Regions from separate parts of the Homo sapiens genome. Here region 2 is linked to region 1. The links come from fine-mapping of genetic effects on gene expression. A gene starts in region 1. The other region holds a variant in brackets. All regions are shown on one strand. Distances are between the middles of the regions.

Region 1 (8,341 bases):
AAAAATCTCATCAAAAAGTGGGCGAAGTATATGAACAGACACTTCTCAAAAGAAGACATTTATGCAGCCAACAAACATGAAAAAAAGCTCATCGTCACTGGTTATTAGAGAAATGCAAATCAAAACCACAATGAGATACCATCTCACGCCAGTTAGGATGGCGATCATTGAAAAGTCAGGAAACAGATGCTGGAGAGGATGTGGAGAAATAGGAACACTTTTACACTGTTGGTGGGAGTGTAAATTAGTTCAACCATTGTGGAAGACAGTGTGGCGATTCCTCAAGGATCTAGAACTAGAAATACCATTTGACCCAGCAATCCCATTACTGGGTATATACCCAAAGGATTATAAATCATTCTACTATAAAGACTCTTGCACACATATGGTTATTGCAGCACTGTTCACAATAGCAAAGACTTGGAACCAACCGAAATGCCCATCAATGATAGATTGGATGAAGAAAATGTGGCACATATACACCATGGAATACTATGCAGCCGTAAAAAAGGATGAGTTCATGTCCTTCGCAGGGACATAGATGAAGCTGGAAACCATCATTCTCAGCAAACTAACACAGGAACGGAAAACCAAACACCGCATGTTCTCATTCATAAGTGGGAGCTGGACAATGAGAACACATGGACACAGGGAGGGGAACATCACCCACTGGGCCTGTCAGTGGGTGGGGGGCTAGGGGAGGGATAGTATTAGAAGAAATACCTAATGTACATGATGGGTTGATCGGTGCAGCAAACCACAATGGCATGTGTCTACCTATGTAACAAACCTGCACGTTGTGCACATGTACCCTAAAACTTGAAGTATAATAAAAAAATGAAAGTAGAAAGAGGAAAATAATAAAGATAAAATCAGAAATCAATGCAATACAAAGCATGCAATAGAGAAATCAATAAAGCCTAAAGTTGGTTCTTTGAAAAAAAAGAAAAGAAAAGAAATTAAGACAGTAAAAAAAAGAATTCTAAATCTCATTCCCTAGTTTTCTGCTTTACATCTGCCTATTCCAAACAAGAGTATCTGAGGGCTTTAAAAATGAGAGAGGGACAGGGAAAAAGGGTGGAGTGGTGTTCTAGTCTCCATCTCATCCTCCTTTCCACCAGAAGATACACAAAGCCCGAACTTGTATGACTCCGCATGCCCCGTGTCCAGGGTTCTGATATGGAAGACTCAGTATTGCCCACTCTCCTTCCTTAGAACTCACTCATTTGAGGGTAGGAGAAGCTGTACAAGGTCAAGCACAGAGCCTTTGGAGACACACTGCCTGGGCTCATGTCCCAGCTCTCCTGGTCACCAGCTCTGTGACTTTGGGAAATTTACTTAAGCTGTCTGTGCCTCAGTTTCCTTCTCTGTAAGATACAAGTAATAGGACCTCCTTCTTATAAATATAGTGAAGAGTCAGTACAAATGTATAGACAGCATTAAGATAAATGCCTGGTTTATAGCCAGGCATGGTGGCTCACGCCTGTAATCCCAGAATTTTGGGAGGCTGAGGCAGGCAAATCACCTGAGGTCAGAAGTTTGAGACCAGCCTGGCCAACATGGCAAAACCCCGTCTCTACTACAAATACAAAAATTAGCCGGGCATGGTGGCAGGTGCCTGTAGTCCCAGCTACTCGGGAGGCTGAGGCAGGAGAATCCCTTGAACCCAGGAGGCGGAGAGTGCAGTAAGCCAAGATCACACCATTGTACTCCAGCTTGGGTGACAAGAAGGAAACTCCATCTCAAAAAAAAAAAAAAAAAAAAAGAGTCAATGTCTGGTTTATAACAGGCACCAGGAAACATGATTATTTTCAACAGCTCTCATAGGCAGTCAGTTCTTTTATAAAGTGATGTGTGCATTCTGAAAACTCACCACAGCAGATTACATGGTGCACTAAGACCAGACGGCTTACAGGAGATAGAATCAGTGATTATATATATATATATATATATATAAAATTTTAACCAGAAGCTTAAACAGCATGGTTTTATACTTGCTGATTAATTACAAAACACTTTATTACCACAATAAACACTGCACGATCCTACAACACCACAATCAGCCCTGTAACACCTCAGCAGGTCTTGCAATGCCACAGAAGATGTGGCATGAAACTTTACCCTGAGTAAAACATGAACTTTGCTTGTGAATATGGGAAGTGTCGCAGCTTGTGAGTTTTTGTGAAGTGAAAGAACAATGATCTGAAATCAGACAGAAAGTGTAGAATGGGCAAGGCTCGTACTGAGGAAGCGGGTAGATGTTTGAGGTACATGCCTGTGTGCATTGTGTACAATCCTACATGGCTCTGCTCGGCTGAGTGCAGGGTCGGTGGGTTGCGGGGGCAGGGCGGGGGTTGTTGTGGTTTCTTAGTGTTTCTCTTGGGCAAAACCATGCATAAGCTAACATGAAATCTGTGCTGCACTCAAATTGTTCCCAGTACGACAATCACACTGGGACAAATTTGCATGTTTAAAAGAAGCCTGGGCTGGGCGCGGTGGCTCACGCCTGTAATCCCAGTGCTTTGGGAGGTCGAGGCGAGCAGATCACGAGGTCAGGAGATTGAGACCATCCTGGCTAACACAGTGAAACCCCGTCTCTACTAAAAATACAAAAAAATTAGCCGGGTGTGGTGGCGGGCGCCTGTAGTCCCAGCTACTTGGGAGGCTGAGGCAGGAGAATCGCTTCAACCTGGGAGGCAGAGGTTACAGTGACCTCAGATCGCACCACTGCACTCCAGCCTGGGCGACAGAGTGGAGACTCAGGCTCAAAAAAAAAAAAAAAAGAAAGAAAGAAAGAAAGAAAAAGGCTTATAACATAACTGAATGTGCCTCTTCCGATTCCCTTTCTTGCCTTTGCTACTCCTTCCCAGGCTAGAGCACTAAATCTTTATAGCCTTTATGCCTTTAAACATCATACTGTCATAGATTATCAAGGAGGATTTGTAGGGGGAGATCGGCAGTGTGGAATGACCCCACAAAAACCCAGCGGCTACCTCCTTGCCTCAGGAGTACCAAGCAGCCCTCCCGCCTTCCTTCTTGAGGACTCTCACCTTTCATCTCGGCTCTAACTTTCTCACACAGTGAGGTCAGATTCATTGTCTGGAAGATGCCGAGGACCACTTTCCATGCCTGACCTTTTGGGAAGTGTTCATCCAAAAGAAAGGACAGATTCAAAGGGTCGGCAGCTCTCAAGTTTGCCCAGGGGATACGCGGGAAGTGCCCCTGGGGGGCCGACCAGAAGTCCATCAGCTGCTGGGGTTCCAAGCAAAGCTTGAATTCCTCCAGCTGATACTGATCCAGGGCCATCAGGTAAGGCAGAAGCCCTTGGTTGGTACCACCGTTGGGGCAGGTGATTACAGAAAAGTTCATCTTGCCCAACACATGCAGTTTCTCACTTCAGCAAAGGACTCCTATATCCACAGGACACTTGTGACCTGCAGAAAAGGAGAGAGTTGAAATCATAAGCCATAAATATCACCTCCTCTCACTGTCTTGCCTACACATTTGAGTATTTTCGCTTCACAGTACTTCCTGCTACTTGTGTTAGTACACTTTTTTGTTGTTGTTTTGTTTTTTGAGATGGAGTCTCGCTCTGTCCCCCAAGCTGAAGTGCAATGGTGCGATCTCGGCTCACTGCAAGCTCCGCCTCCCGGGTTCACGCCATTCTCCTGCCTCAGCCTCTTGAGTAGCTGGGACTACAGGTGCCCGCCACCACGCCCAGCTAGTTTTTTTTGTATTTTTAGTACAGATGGGGTTTCACCGTGTTAGCCAGGATGGTCTCGATCTCCTGACCTTGTGATCCGCCCGCCTCGGCCTCCCAAAGTGTTGGGATTACAGGCGTGAGCCACCGGGCCCGGCCTCAACTGGGTATTTTCTCTAGCAACCTTACCTAGACTCGAGATCACTGGCTTTCATCCCATCCCAGAAGGAACAATGCCATCAGCACCTGATTTATCTGCCTTACTAACAGTGACAGCTGTCCTAGAAAAGTTACAGGTGCATGATGGTACTTACCAACTCACATTCAGAGGGTTCACCTGAAATGTGAATAAGAAGAACATTGAAGTTAATTAGTCACAGTAAAGATCAAAGACATTTGAGAGATGGGAACGGGGGAAACTAATCAGGGAGAAGGGGTAACAAAGAGAGAAAATAGAAGTTTCCGCCCATCACGATTTTGGCCACCAGGCAGCTAATGGTGATTGAGACAGATCTGCCACTATTCCCCCATAGAACCTGGTCCGGCATGTATGCTGGGTCATGTCAAAATACCAGGTAGTATTGAAGGCAACAGATAGACAGCAGAACAAAAGACTTTTTTTTTTGTGATGGAGTTTCGCTCTCGTTGCCCAGGCTGGAGTGCAATGGCTGGATCTCGGCTCACTGGAGTCTTTGCCTCCCAGGTTCAAGTGATTCTCTTGCCTCAGCGTCCGAGTAGCTGGGACTACAGGTGCATACTGGCCTTGGCCTCCCAAAATGCTGGGATTACAGGCATGAGCCACCATGCCTGGCCCAAAACACTATGCTTGAAGCTACTGGTGTGTGACCCCCGAATGTCTCCCAAAGAGAAATCTCCAGAAGAGATGTATGTTAGGACCTACCCTGGCAGCCCAAATTCATTGGACTACTCCAGAAATTGTTGGAGAAAAGATGGGGAAAGACACACAGAGGAAAACTTGAAACATCATGAAGAAAAGCCCTTTCAGGTATAAGCAGGGAGGATAAAGACTAGGGGAAAAGCTTATTTGAGAATCAAATGACATTAAGCTATCATTGAACACCCAGTAGAAGCTGAGCAAGGGGGCTGGGCGCGGTGGCTCACACCTGTAATCCTAGTTTTAGGAGGCCAAGGTGGGCAGATCACATGAGGTCAGGAGCTTGAGACCAGCCTGGCCAACATGGTGAAACCCCGTCTCTACCAAAAATACAAAAATTAGGTGGGCATGGTGGTGGGTGCCTGTAATCCCAGCTACTCAGGAGGCTGAGGCAGGAGAATAGCTTGAACCTGGGAGGCAGAGGTTACAGTGAGCCGAGATAGCACCACTGCACTCTAGCCTGAGCGACAAGAGCAAGACTGTCTCGAAACAATAAAAAAAAAATTACTCCATGCTGCACTTTTGTTGTATGTCTCTTGTTTAAATTTTTAAACCGAGAAGAACTGAGGTATCACATCAGCCACCAACAAACTCCTCCAAGATTATAGGGTTAGGTTCCCGTGAGCCTCTCGTCACATTTTCATCCACTAGTCAATACATAACCTTGTTTTATATGTGTCTCTGTTTAAGGAAACCTAATTTAATACATATCGTTGATTCATTAACATTGAGCCCACCGCCAGCAACACTATAGCTCATGCCTGAAAGAAGCTCAGCTAACGCATGCATTTTCTTCAGAACTCACATCCCAGCCTTCTTGTGTGTCGAGCACCAGACAGAACTTCCACACTACACAAGGGGACGTTTAGACAGCAAAGTCACCGACGAAAAGCCCAGAAATGCAAAAACAGGGCACTAAGTAGACCCACCAGCACTGCCTTATCTGACCTCAGCTCGAATTTTTCCTGGCTCTGTGCATGTCTGGATGACTTTGAAAGCTCTGCAAATATTGATTTGGGGGTTGCCAGCAGATCTTAGCGTGTAGATGAATTCACACACATGGAATCCACAAATAAAGAGGATGAACTATAATTAGGATGAAGCATGTTGGGTATGAGACCCACATGGTGCCATGAAGTTATACAGCAAGTAGGCCAAGTACATAGGACTCGAAAGGAAATTCCTCCAAACTTGATGCATGCATCGGATTGAGCCAAGGAGGGTGGGAAGAGGATTAGGGGGTAGAGCGGTCAGTGAAAACAGCAAGTGCAAAAGCCCTGGAGGGAAAAAAAATACAAGAACAGAGAAATTCAGCTAGAAAATCTCACACAACTGCGGAATCCCCTTGGTTGAGGAGATGGAAAGCTCCTAATCGAAGAAGGAAGTGTGTGCGATCAACTTTTGCTCCTAAGAAAACACCAGCAGGATACAGTGGAGTAAAAGGTCCCAGAGAAAGGTGAAACCTTAGAGCAGAGAGAGGAGACGTCTCTTACCAACCAGACTTTGAATCTCACATGAGTTTCCAGAGGCTGATTCGGGAAACCCCATAGAAGTAGTCACCGCCACCCCCTCCTCACCTGTGAGCAGCCCTCGGGTCCGTCTGCCTCCTCTTAGCTGTGTCTCGGGGCCTCCTGTTTATAGCTCTCTTCCCGCTCCCTTTCCCCAGCACAACTCGGGGTCAGTTGAGAAGCTGACAAGACTCAGCTGAGACGTACGATATCTGGTTTTTCTCCTCCAGATCTAGATAATCACAGGATTCTTCAGGCTGGGAGGCCAAACTGGGTTTAAAGACCATACTATCCTGAAGTAAATGGAGCCATCCACGCCAGCAAAGAGCCACAGATGGGAGTAATGCCTGTGATTACCCCTCCTACCATCTGGGCGACCTCAGGGGACAATGAAAGAGGAGAGGGAGACAGAGGTCGTGAGACACTAAAATCACGGTTGCCGCCACTTACAGGACTGTGTCTTCTTCCAACTGCAGGAGAAATGCTCCTTCCACCATTCCATCATGAATACAAAGGATTTTCCACCGAAGTCAGGAACAAGATGAGGATAGTCATAACTCCGCTGCTATTCAACATTCTGCTGGAGATGTCAACCAATTCTATCAACAATGTTAGCTAGTTTTAAACTCGGGTTACAGGCTTTAAACTAGCAATTGGAAAGCAATTAGAGAGAGGTATAATAATTGGAAAGCAACAGGTAAAACTACATTTGCAAACTTGATTATGTACCCGGACAATGCAAAAGACTGCATGGGAGAACTATCAACAACAAGAGAAATTGGTATTACAGCAGGTAATAAAATAAGTATTCAAAAATCAATAGACTTCAAATATGGAAACTCAAAACACTGGAAAAGAATACCCCTATTTACTATAGCAAAAAAAAAAAAAATGGAAATAAAATGCTTACTTAAAAACTTCAGAAATATCCAAAACTTATGTAAGAAAAACTATAAAATACATTTCTGCAAGATCCAAAAGTGGACTTAAGCCTTAAAGAAATAAATACCACGTTTTTGCATGGAAAGCTCAACCTCATAAATATATCACTTCTCTCTAATACAAATACATCAAGGTTTTACCTGGAGGTGCGGAAGTGGATTATAAAATTCAACTGAACAAATCGAATTTGTAGGAATGGCCTGGAAAATCCTGAAAAGGAGGAATGAGGAGGGACTAAACCTAGCAGATATTAAAATATACCATGAGGCCTTTATGATTAAAATATAGTATTGGCACATGTGCAAACAGACTGGGCAAAGGAACAGACTAGAAAATCCAGAAATAGGGCTGGGCGCGGTGGCTTACGCCGGTAATCCCAGCACTTTGGGAGGCTGAGGAGGGCAGATCACAAGGTCAGGAGATCGAGACCATCCTGGCTAATACAGTGAAACCCCGTCTCTACTAAAAATACAAAAAATTAGCTGGGCATGGTGGCGGGCACCCATAGTCCCAGCTACTTGGGAGGCTGAGGCAGGAGAATGGTGTGAACCTGGGAGGCGGAGCTTGCAGTGAGTCGAGATGGCGCCACTGCACTCCAGCCTGGGTGACAGAGGGAGACTCTGTCTCAAAAAAAAATTAAAAAAAAAAGAAAAGGAAAAAAGAAAATCCAGAAATAAAATTATTAACATATATAAATTTGATAAATATTGCATCACTCATAAGTGAGGGAAATTGACTTTTAATAAGCATGGTGATGCTAGATCTGTTTCCTATACAACAGAATAATTTTCAAGCACGTCAGAGATTTAAATGCATAAATAAAACTTTAGAAGCACCAGAAGAAAACAATTGAATTCCTCTCAAACCTGATGGTGGGGAAAGCTTTCTTAGCTAAGATTTAAAATTCAAAAGCAATTAGAGAAAAAATAAACAAATTTTATTACAAATGTTTTTTAAGCATTCATAACAAAAGATGTGTGAAGCAAGGTAAAAAGACAAACTATAAAATGGTAAATATATTTGCAACTTATATCAGAAAGAGTTTATATGCCTAATATTTATTTATCTATTTATTTTTGAGATGGAGTCTCACTCTGTCACCCAGGCTGGAGTGCAGTGGCGACATCTCCACTCACTGCAACCTCCGCCTCCCAGGTTCAAGTGATTCTCCTGCCTCAGCCTCCCAAGTAGCTGAGATTACAGGCATGTGCACCCATGCCCAACTAATTTTTTTTTTTTTGTATTTTTAATAGAGACAGGGTTTCACCATGTTGGTCAGGCTGGTCTCGAACTCCT
Region 2 (8,341 bases), 66 kb before region 1:
AGAAGACTATAGCGTAAGTCTCTGTTTATTGAGACCACTGATTGGGTTTCAGAGAAGACTATAGCGTAAGTCTCTGTTTATTGAGACCACTGATTGGGTTTCAGAGAAGACTATAGCGTAAGTCTCCGTTTATTGAGACCACTGATTGGGTTTCAGAGAAGACTATAGCGTAAGTCTCTGTTTATTGAGACCACTGATTGGGTTTCAGAGAAGACTATGTATTTCTTTTTGTGTTGGGGGAGGGGGCTGCATATTTGAAGACATCCACTTTTTCCTTCTATGATTTGTATGCAAACTTAGTTTCCTGAGAACTTGGATAGGGAAGTTAAAGTTTCCCAATTGATGTAGCCATTTCGGAAAACTGTGTGTATTCAGCCTTCATGGATTCTGGCAGATTATGTAACCCAATAATTCCACCTGGAGGTGCACATTCGACAGAGGGACCTGTCTCAGTTTGCTGAAAGACAGGCACTAAAGCATTCCCAGCAGGTGTTCATAATCTCTGAGAAGTGGAAATACCACTGACAGTAAGTTGGATAAGAAACCTGTGGTTACATGCTCCTGTTCCATGAGAAAGAACACTCTCGGTCGTATGCAAAAACCTGGACAAATCTCAGACATTGTTGATGGCAATGAGCCAGACTCAAGAGTACATCCTATGGCTTTATTCCTGTGAAGTTCAAAGATGGACAAGGCTCTGGTGTTGGAGGTTCGGGCAGTGTATTCACACGTTCTCGCGCTGCTATAAAGACATACCTGAGACTGGGAATTTATAAATAAAAGAGGTGTAATTGGCTTATGGTTCTGAAGGATGTACAGGCTTCTGCTTCTGGGGAGGCCTCAGGAAACTTACAATGGTGGCAGAAGGCAAAGGGAAAGCAGGCACGTCTTACATGGGGGAGCAGGAAGAAGAGAGAAGAGGGAGGCGCTACACAGTTCCAAGCAACCAGGTCGCGTGAGGACTCTGTCACAGGAACAGCTCTAGGGGATGGTGGTAAATCACTAGAAACCACCCCCATGATTCCGTCACCCCCCAGGCCCCTCCTCCAACACTGGGATTACAGTTCGACGTGAGGGTTGGGTGGGGACACAGCCGAACCATATCAGACAGCGGTTACTTTTGTTAAGATAGTGAAGGAGAGGGGTACAGGAGAATGATGAACCTGCTCTGTTTCTTGACCTGGATACTGGTAACTCAAGTGCCTTAAATTCATGACAGTGCGTTGGCTGGCACTTAACCATTGTGTGTACTTTCCAGTATGTATGTTTTAATTCAAGCATTTTTATTTTTGCAATTAAATAAGGGTTTCCTGTAAATACTTACCCTCTACTTACCTTCATTGGTACCCACACATTCAAATACTTCTCTATACTAGTCTTTGTTGGCCATTTTTCTGAGCTTGCATCAACCGAACACAAAAAGACCCAAACCCTTTTTTAAAAAATAACAACTTTATTGTGATATCCACATACCACAAAACATATACTTTTAAAGTATGTACTTCATATATTTTAAGAAATACTTTTAAAGTATAACTATGCTTTAAAATGTACAGTTTAGTGATCCTCATATATATTCATGAGGAAGTACAACCATCATGACTGATTTTAGAATGTTCTCATTACCTCAGAAAGAAACCCCATACCCATTAGCATTCACTCCTCACTCCCTTATCTCTCTGGTCCCTGGGAATTACTAACATACTTTCAGTCCTATTGGATTTTCCTATCCCAGGCGTCTCATGTAAGTTGAATCACATGTGGTCTTTTGCGAATGGCTTACTTTCACTTAGCAAAATGTTTTCAAGGTTTATCCAAATTGTACCATGTATCAGTACTTCATTCCTTTTCTTGGCTAAATAGTATTCCACTGTGTAGATATTCCCCATTTTGTTCTTCTAGTCCTCTAGTGATGAACACTTGGGTTGTTACCACCTTTTAGCTATTCTGAATAGTGCTCTATGAACACTCATGTGTGAACACCTGCTTTCAATCCTTTTGGACTTGTAACCAGGAGTAGACTTGCTAGGTCATATAGTAAATCCATATTTAACTGTTAGAGAAACCACCAAGTTATTTTCCTCAGTGACTGCACAATTCTGTATTCCTACCAGCAATGTATGAGAGTTCTAATTTCTCCACATCTTTGCTTATTTTTTACTTATTTACTTATATTTTATTATTACTTATATTTACTTATTTTTTATTATACCCATCCTAGTAGATGTGAAGGAGCATCTCATTGTGGTTTTGATTTGCTTTTCCTGAATGACTAATGATGAGCATCTTTTCCTGTGCTTTTTGATCATTTCTATATCTTCTTTGGAGAAATATATATTCAAGTCCTTCACACATTTTTAAAAACTTTTATTTTACATTCAGGGGTACAGGTTTTTAAACATTTAAAAATTTTAACATTTAAACAACATTTTAAAAAACTTTTATTTTACATTCAGGGGTACAGGTTTATTATAAAAGTAAATGGCACGTCATGGAAGTTTGGTGTACAAATTATTTCGTCACCCGTTAATAAGCATAGTACCTGATAGGTAGATTTTTCTTCCCCACCTTCTTCCCACCCTCTGCTCTCAAGTAGGCCCTGGTGTCTGTTGTCCTTTTCTTCATGTCTATATGTACTCAGTGTTTAGCGTCCACTTATAAGTGAGAACATGTGATATTTGGATTTATGTTCCTGTGTTAGTTTGCTAAGGATAATGGCCTCCAGCTCCATCCATGTTGCTACAAAGGACATCATCTTACTCTTTTTTATGGCTGCATAGTATTCCATGGTGTATATGTATCACATTTTCTTTATCTAGCCCACTGTTGATGGGTATTTAGGTGAATAGTGCTGTGATGAGCATACAAGTGCAGGTGTCTTTATAGTACAATGATTTATATTCCTTTGGGTATATACCCAATAATGGGATTGCTGGGTTTGATGGTAGTTGTGTTTGAAGTTCTTTCAGAAATTGCCAAACTGCTTTCCATAATGGCTGAACTAATTTACATTCCTACAAAAATGTGTAAGTGTACACTTTTCTCTGCAACCTCACCAGCATATATTATTTCTTGACTTTTTTTAATAATAGCCATTCTGACCTGTGTGAGATGGTATCTCATTGCAGTTTTGATATGCATTTTTCTAATGATTAATGAGCATTTCTTCATATGGTTGTTGGCAACACCTTTGCACATTTTTAATTGGATTTTTTGCCTTTTTGTCAAGTTGTAAGTGTTCTTTATGTTTTCTGATTACAAGTTATATACGAGAC[G/A]TACTTTGTGAATATTTTTTGCCATTCTGTGAGTTGTCGTTTCACTTTCTTAATGGTGTCCTTTGAAGCACAAAAGCTTCTAATCTGATGAGATGCACTTTATTTTTTTCTTTTGTCTCATGTGCTTTTGGTGCAATTGCTACGAAACCATTGCCTAACCCAAATTCATTAAGATTAACTTCTTTGTTTTCTTTTCTTTTTTTTTCCCCCAAATTTGAGATGAGTCTCACTCTGTCACCCAGGCTGGAGTGCAGTGGTACAATCTCAGTTCACTAAAACCTCCGCCTCCTGGGTTCAAGTGATTCTTCTGCCTCAGCCTCCTGAGTAGCTGGGACTACAGGTGCCCACCACCATGCCCAGCTAATTTTTGTATTTTTAGTAGAGATGGGGTTTCACCATGCTGGTCAGGATGGCCTTGATCTCTTGACCTCATGTTCCGCCCTCCTTGGCCTCCCAAAGTGCTGGAATTACAGGCTTGAGCCACCACGCCCGGCCGCACCAACCTATATCTTAAATCTAGAAAGAACATTAAAAGCATGCATGGCCTCAGAGCCCTGCTGCAGAGGCGTGAGGAGCCATGGACTCGGTGACTTGCCAATTCCACATTTATTTCTGGACAACTCCCATAATGGCTTTCATCTTTATTCTGTTGTCTCTGAGCTTATTTTTTGTGGCAACCAGAGGTAAGGAGAGTGGTTGAGGTAATAGAAAACCACACAGTTAAACCACACAGTTGTGAGGCAACACAAATCAACTCAAGCCACCAAAAAAGGAGTCCTAGGGGACTCGGGTTCAAGGCTTCTTCCATGTTCTTTGAGGAGATATTACTTGAGCAGAGACCTGAATGATAAAGATGCATCTAACCACAGGCCAGAAAAAGAGCATTCCACTTGGCGGGCACACATGCAAAATAGCCCAAGTTGAGTAAAGGAGCCACTAGACACGAGTTTGGGGAGGATCAAACATGAATAATATCTTAGAGAATGAAACCTGTGTTGTCAAGCAACTGAAAAAGAACCAGGGTGGCTGGGACATGGGGACTTGGGAATGGGTAGGACCCTTGTGGATCATGTTGTATATTTTGGGATTTTCTCCAAGTGCAGTGAGATAAGTTACTGGGGGAGGCTAAGCCAAGCATGCATATAACTGACACTGTGCGTCTCAGGTTGGCTGTCTCTGTACCCCAGAGACCGTAAGCCAAGCATGCATATAACTGAGACGGTGCATCTCAGGTTGGCTGTCTCTGTACCCCAGAGACCATAAGCCAAGCATGCATATAACTGAGACGGTGCATCTCAGGTTGGCTGTCTCTGTACCCCAGAGACCATAAGCCAAGCATGCATATAACTGAGACAGTGCATATCAGGTTGGCTGTCTCTGTACCCCGGAGGCCATAAGTCAAGCATGCATATAACAGATGGTGCGTCTCAGGTTGGCTGTCTCTGTACCCCAGAGACCGTAAGCCAAGTGTGCATGTAACTGAGACTGTGTCTCAGGTTGGCTGTCTCTGTACCCTAGAGACTGTAAGCCAAGCATGCATATAACTGAGACTGTGTGTCTCAGGTTGGCTGTCTCTGTACCCCAGAGACCGTAAGCCAAGCATACGTATAACTGAGATGGTGCATCTCAGGTTGGCTGTCTCTGTACCCCAGAGACCGTAAGCCAAGCATGCATATAACTGAGACTGTGCATCTCAGGTTGGCTGTCTCTGTACCCCAGAGACTGGGTTGACAGGGATCAAGAACAGGGTTGGGAGGCAGTGAGCCTCTCAAGGACAGCAAATGTGGGCTTCCCGACTCTGACAGGATTGGCAAGAGGAATGAGTCCAGGAACTAGAAACCAACAGAATGTGACATTTTCCCTTTCCTGCAGGCTGGTAAATTGTCACCTCTCACCCATTGATTGTGAAGTCCTTGCTGGCCTTCTAACCAACAACAAGAAGCTGACGTATCTGAATGTATCCTGCAACCAGTTAGACACAGGCGTGCCCCTTTTGTGTGAAGCCCTGTGCAGCCCAGACACGGTCCTGGTATACCTGATGTGAGTGGATGTTGGGGGTGCCTACTGTGGAGGGCCATGGCGGCAGTTCAAACCTGGGCCTATTGATGACAGTCTGCTCATTGATGGAGGCCACATAGCGGAGGTTTAAAAGCTCACGCTTAAGAATCAGAAAAGACTTGAGTTCTAGTTCAGGATTTATCACGTATATACTGTCTTCTTAAGCAAAATATTTAACTTAGAAGCAGAGGAAAATCCTGTCTTAGAGGTCTTATGGCTATCAAGTGAGACTGTCTATACAGAACACGTACTGTGTTTCAAAGCTGTTAGGTTGGGTTAATGCACCTGCAACACACATGGTACTTCCCGTGTTGATAACGGTTATTTCGAGCATGTAGAATAGACTTGGTGGGTACTCAGGACAGTAGCGGGGAAAAATGTCTATGGGCCTCTTGACCCCAGTTAATACTATAATACATGTGATGTTCTTGCAGTAATAGGATGAGAAGAGGCTATTCAAGCCAGTTTTAGGGTACGTAAAACACAGAAGGAAGACAGATGAGTAAGTGTTAAAGGCCAATTGATTTACCTATTAATGGAATTCTAATACCTTTAGGTGATACTTATACAAAAGGGGAGAGGACAGGAGAATATATATGCATTTGTGTCTTTTTTTTTTTTTTTGAGTTTTGAGTTTTGCTCTTGTTGCCCAGGCTAGAGTGCAGTGGCATGATCTTGGCTTATCGCAACCTCTGCCTCCTGGGTTCAAGCAATTCCCCTGCCTCAGTCTCCCAAGTAGCTGAGATTACAGGCATGCGCCACCATGCCTGGCTAATTTTGTATTTTTAGTAGAGATGGGGTTTCTCCACGTTGGTCAGGCTGGTCTCGAGTGTGTCTATTTTTTAAATACACAAATATCACTGGAAGAAATAGTATTATAATATAGGCTGCCTGTGAGAAATAGAACTGAGAAGCTGGGAGATAGGGGAGGATGGAGATTTTTCCCTCTTTATACTTTTGGGCATTTTGAAATATGAACAACATGAAAGTAAGAGTATTCTGAAAATGTCAAGAAAATGAGAGGATTTATACCTCGAGCTAAAATAGAGGGACAGGGACAGGACTTAACCTCCCACCTAAAACAACCAAAAATAACCAACTAAATAAAACAACTGTTTAAGACTTCAGACATCAGGCAATGAAGGACAGTGGTGCCTGAGTGATAAGGGACAAACAGGTGAGTCCTAGAATTGTCCCAGGTAACTATCTGGAGAGAGATTTCAGGATGCAGTTCAGGAAGGGGAACCCAGATGGAAGTTGGTAGACTCTGTGAGTTGGTGAAACCCCGTCTCTACTAAAAATACAAAATACAAAAATTAGCTGGGTTTGGTGGTGCATACCTGTAGTCCCAGCTACTCTCGAGGGAAGCTGAGGCTGGAGAATCGCTTGAACCTGGGAGGCAGAGGTTGCAGTGAGCCGAGATCGCACCACCACACTTCAGCCTGGGTGAAAGAGCAAGACTGTCTCAAAAAAAAACAAAAAATAAACCAAAAAAAAAACAAAAAACAACAAAGTCCACAAATGCCTGGATATGCCAGAAAATTGAGATCCGTGAGAGAAGCAAGCTGGGTGAGGCCTCCGTGGAAATGCAGATCTTGTGTCTGTCAACAGGAAGCAGTTGCCCGTTCTGTCCTAGCCTGTTGGATTTCCATGTGGGAATGCGGCTCATTATTGCCAGATATCCCAGTTTTCAACAGAGGTTGAAATCTAGATTTTACATACAATTTTACTGATGGTTATATATTGCCAACTGATTTTGTTAAACATAAAAATGCCAGGAAATCTAAATATCCGTAGGCCATATGTGGTTCGTTCATCACTAGCTTGCACCGTCTGCTTTTTTGTTTTTCTCTACTCCACACTTTTTTTTCAAAGTCAACATGGATCCTTAAAAAAAAAAAATTCATAAACTGGCTGGGATTGGAGGCTCACACCTATATTCCCAACACTTTGGGACGTCAAGGCAGGTGAATTGTTTGAGCCCAGGAGTTCAAGACCAGCCTGGGCACCATGATGAAACCCTTTCTTGACAAAAAAATACAAAAATTAGCTTGGTGTGGTGGCACGCACCTGTAGTCTCAGCTACTCAGAAGACTGAGGTGCTGAGGTGGGAGGATCCCTTGAGCCAGGGAGGTAGAGGCTGCAGTGAGCTGTGATCATGCCACTGCACTCCAGCCTAGGTGACAGAGCCATACCCTGTCTCCAAAAAAAAAAAAGTTTTGAACCTACTGTGATTTTAAAGAATAATGAAATTGAAAAAGTTGGGGATTCTACACATGAGGTAATCAATACACTTTACCAGTCCCTGAGGGAGCGGTCTCAGAAGGTCCATGTCTTGTCCAAGGACATCATCAGATGAAGAATTAGAACCAAAATTAAAGCCCTGTTAGAGTATTAGCTATGCCATATTACACGATACTTTTTCCTTCTGCATTACCCTCTTATTTTCTAATTCTTCTATCATGCAACTAAGAAGAAATGAGAGGGCCGGACGCGGTGGCTCACGCCTTGTAATCCCAGCACTTTGGGAGGCCGAGGTGGGCAGATCACCTGAGGTCCGGAGTTCGAGACTAGCCTGGCTAACATGGTGAAACCCCGTCTCTACTAAAAATGCAAAAATTAGCGAGATGTGGTTGTGGGTGCCTGTAATCTCAGCTACTTGGGAGGCTAAGGCAAGAGAATCACTTGAACCTGGGAGGTGGAGGTTGCAGTGAGCCAAGATCGCGCCGTTGCATTCCAGCCCGGGCGACGACAGCAAAACTCCATCTCAAAAGAATAAATGAGAGGAGGTGTTTTCAGATAATCCAGAACTTCATCTCAGCTGGGGAGTTTGTAAGATTATAGAAATATTACCCTGAATGTGAAATTAAGCAAATCTCCCTGAGACACCACGTCCCTCTTCACTCTCCTTCTCGTGTTTTTGTCCCCATAGGTTGGCTTTCTGCCACCTCAGCGAGCAGTGCTGCGAATACATCTCTGAAATGCTTCTGCGTAACAAGAGCGTGCGC

What was found. PIP is the estimated chance that this variant, and not a neighbour inherited with it, causes the effect. A credible set is the group of variants that fine-mapping cannot tell apart.
Region 2: its variant is the best candidate, but not a certain one, in a credible set for the expression of NLRP13 in testis (GTEx, PIP 0.64).

Annotation. Positions count from the first base shown.
Region 1 is chr19:55,928,943-55,937,283 of GRCh38, forward strand. It overlaps NLRP13 (NLR family pyrin domain containing 13), which reads right to left and starts at 3,394. Exons shown (of 11, transcript NM_176810.2): 1 at 3,051-3,394. The coding sequence starts at 3,369.
Region 2 is chr19:55,862,562-55,870,902 of GRCh38, forward strand. It overlaps NLRP4 (NLR family pyrin domain containing 4), which reads left to right. Exons shown (of 10, transcript NM_134444.5): 6 at 5,148-5,315; 7 at 8,266-8,341. Among named protein-coding and RNA genes, the nearest start is that of NLRP4, 30 kb to the left of the region's middle. The variant G/A (reference allele first, on the strand shown) is at 3,276.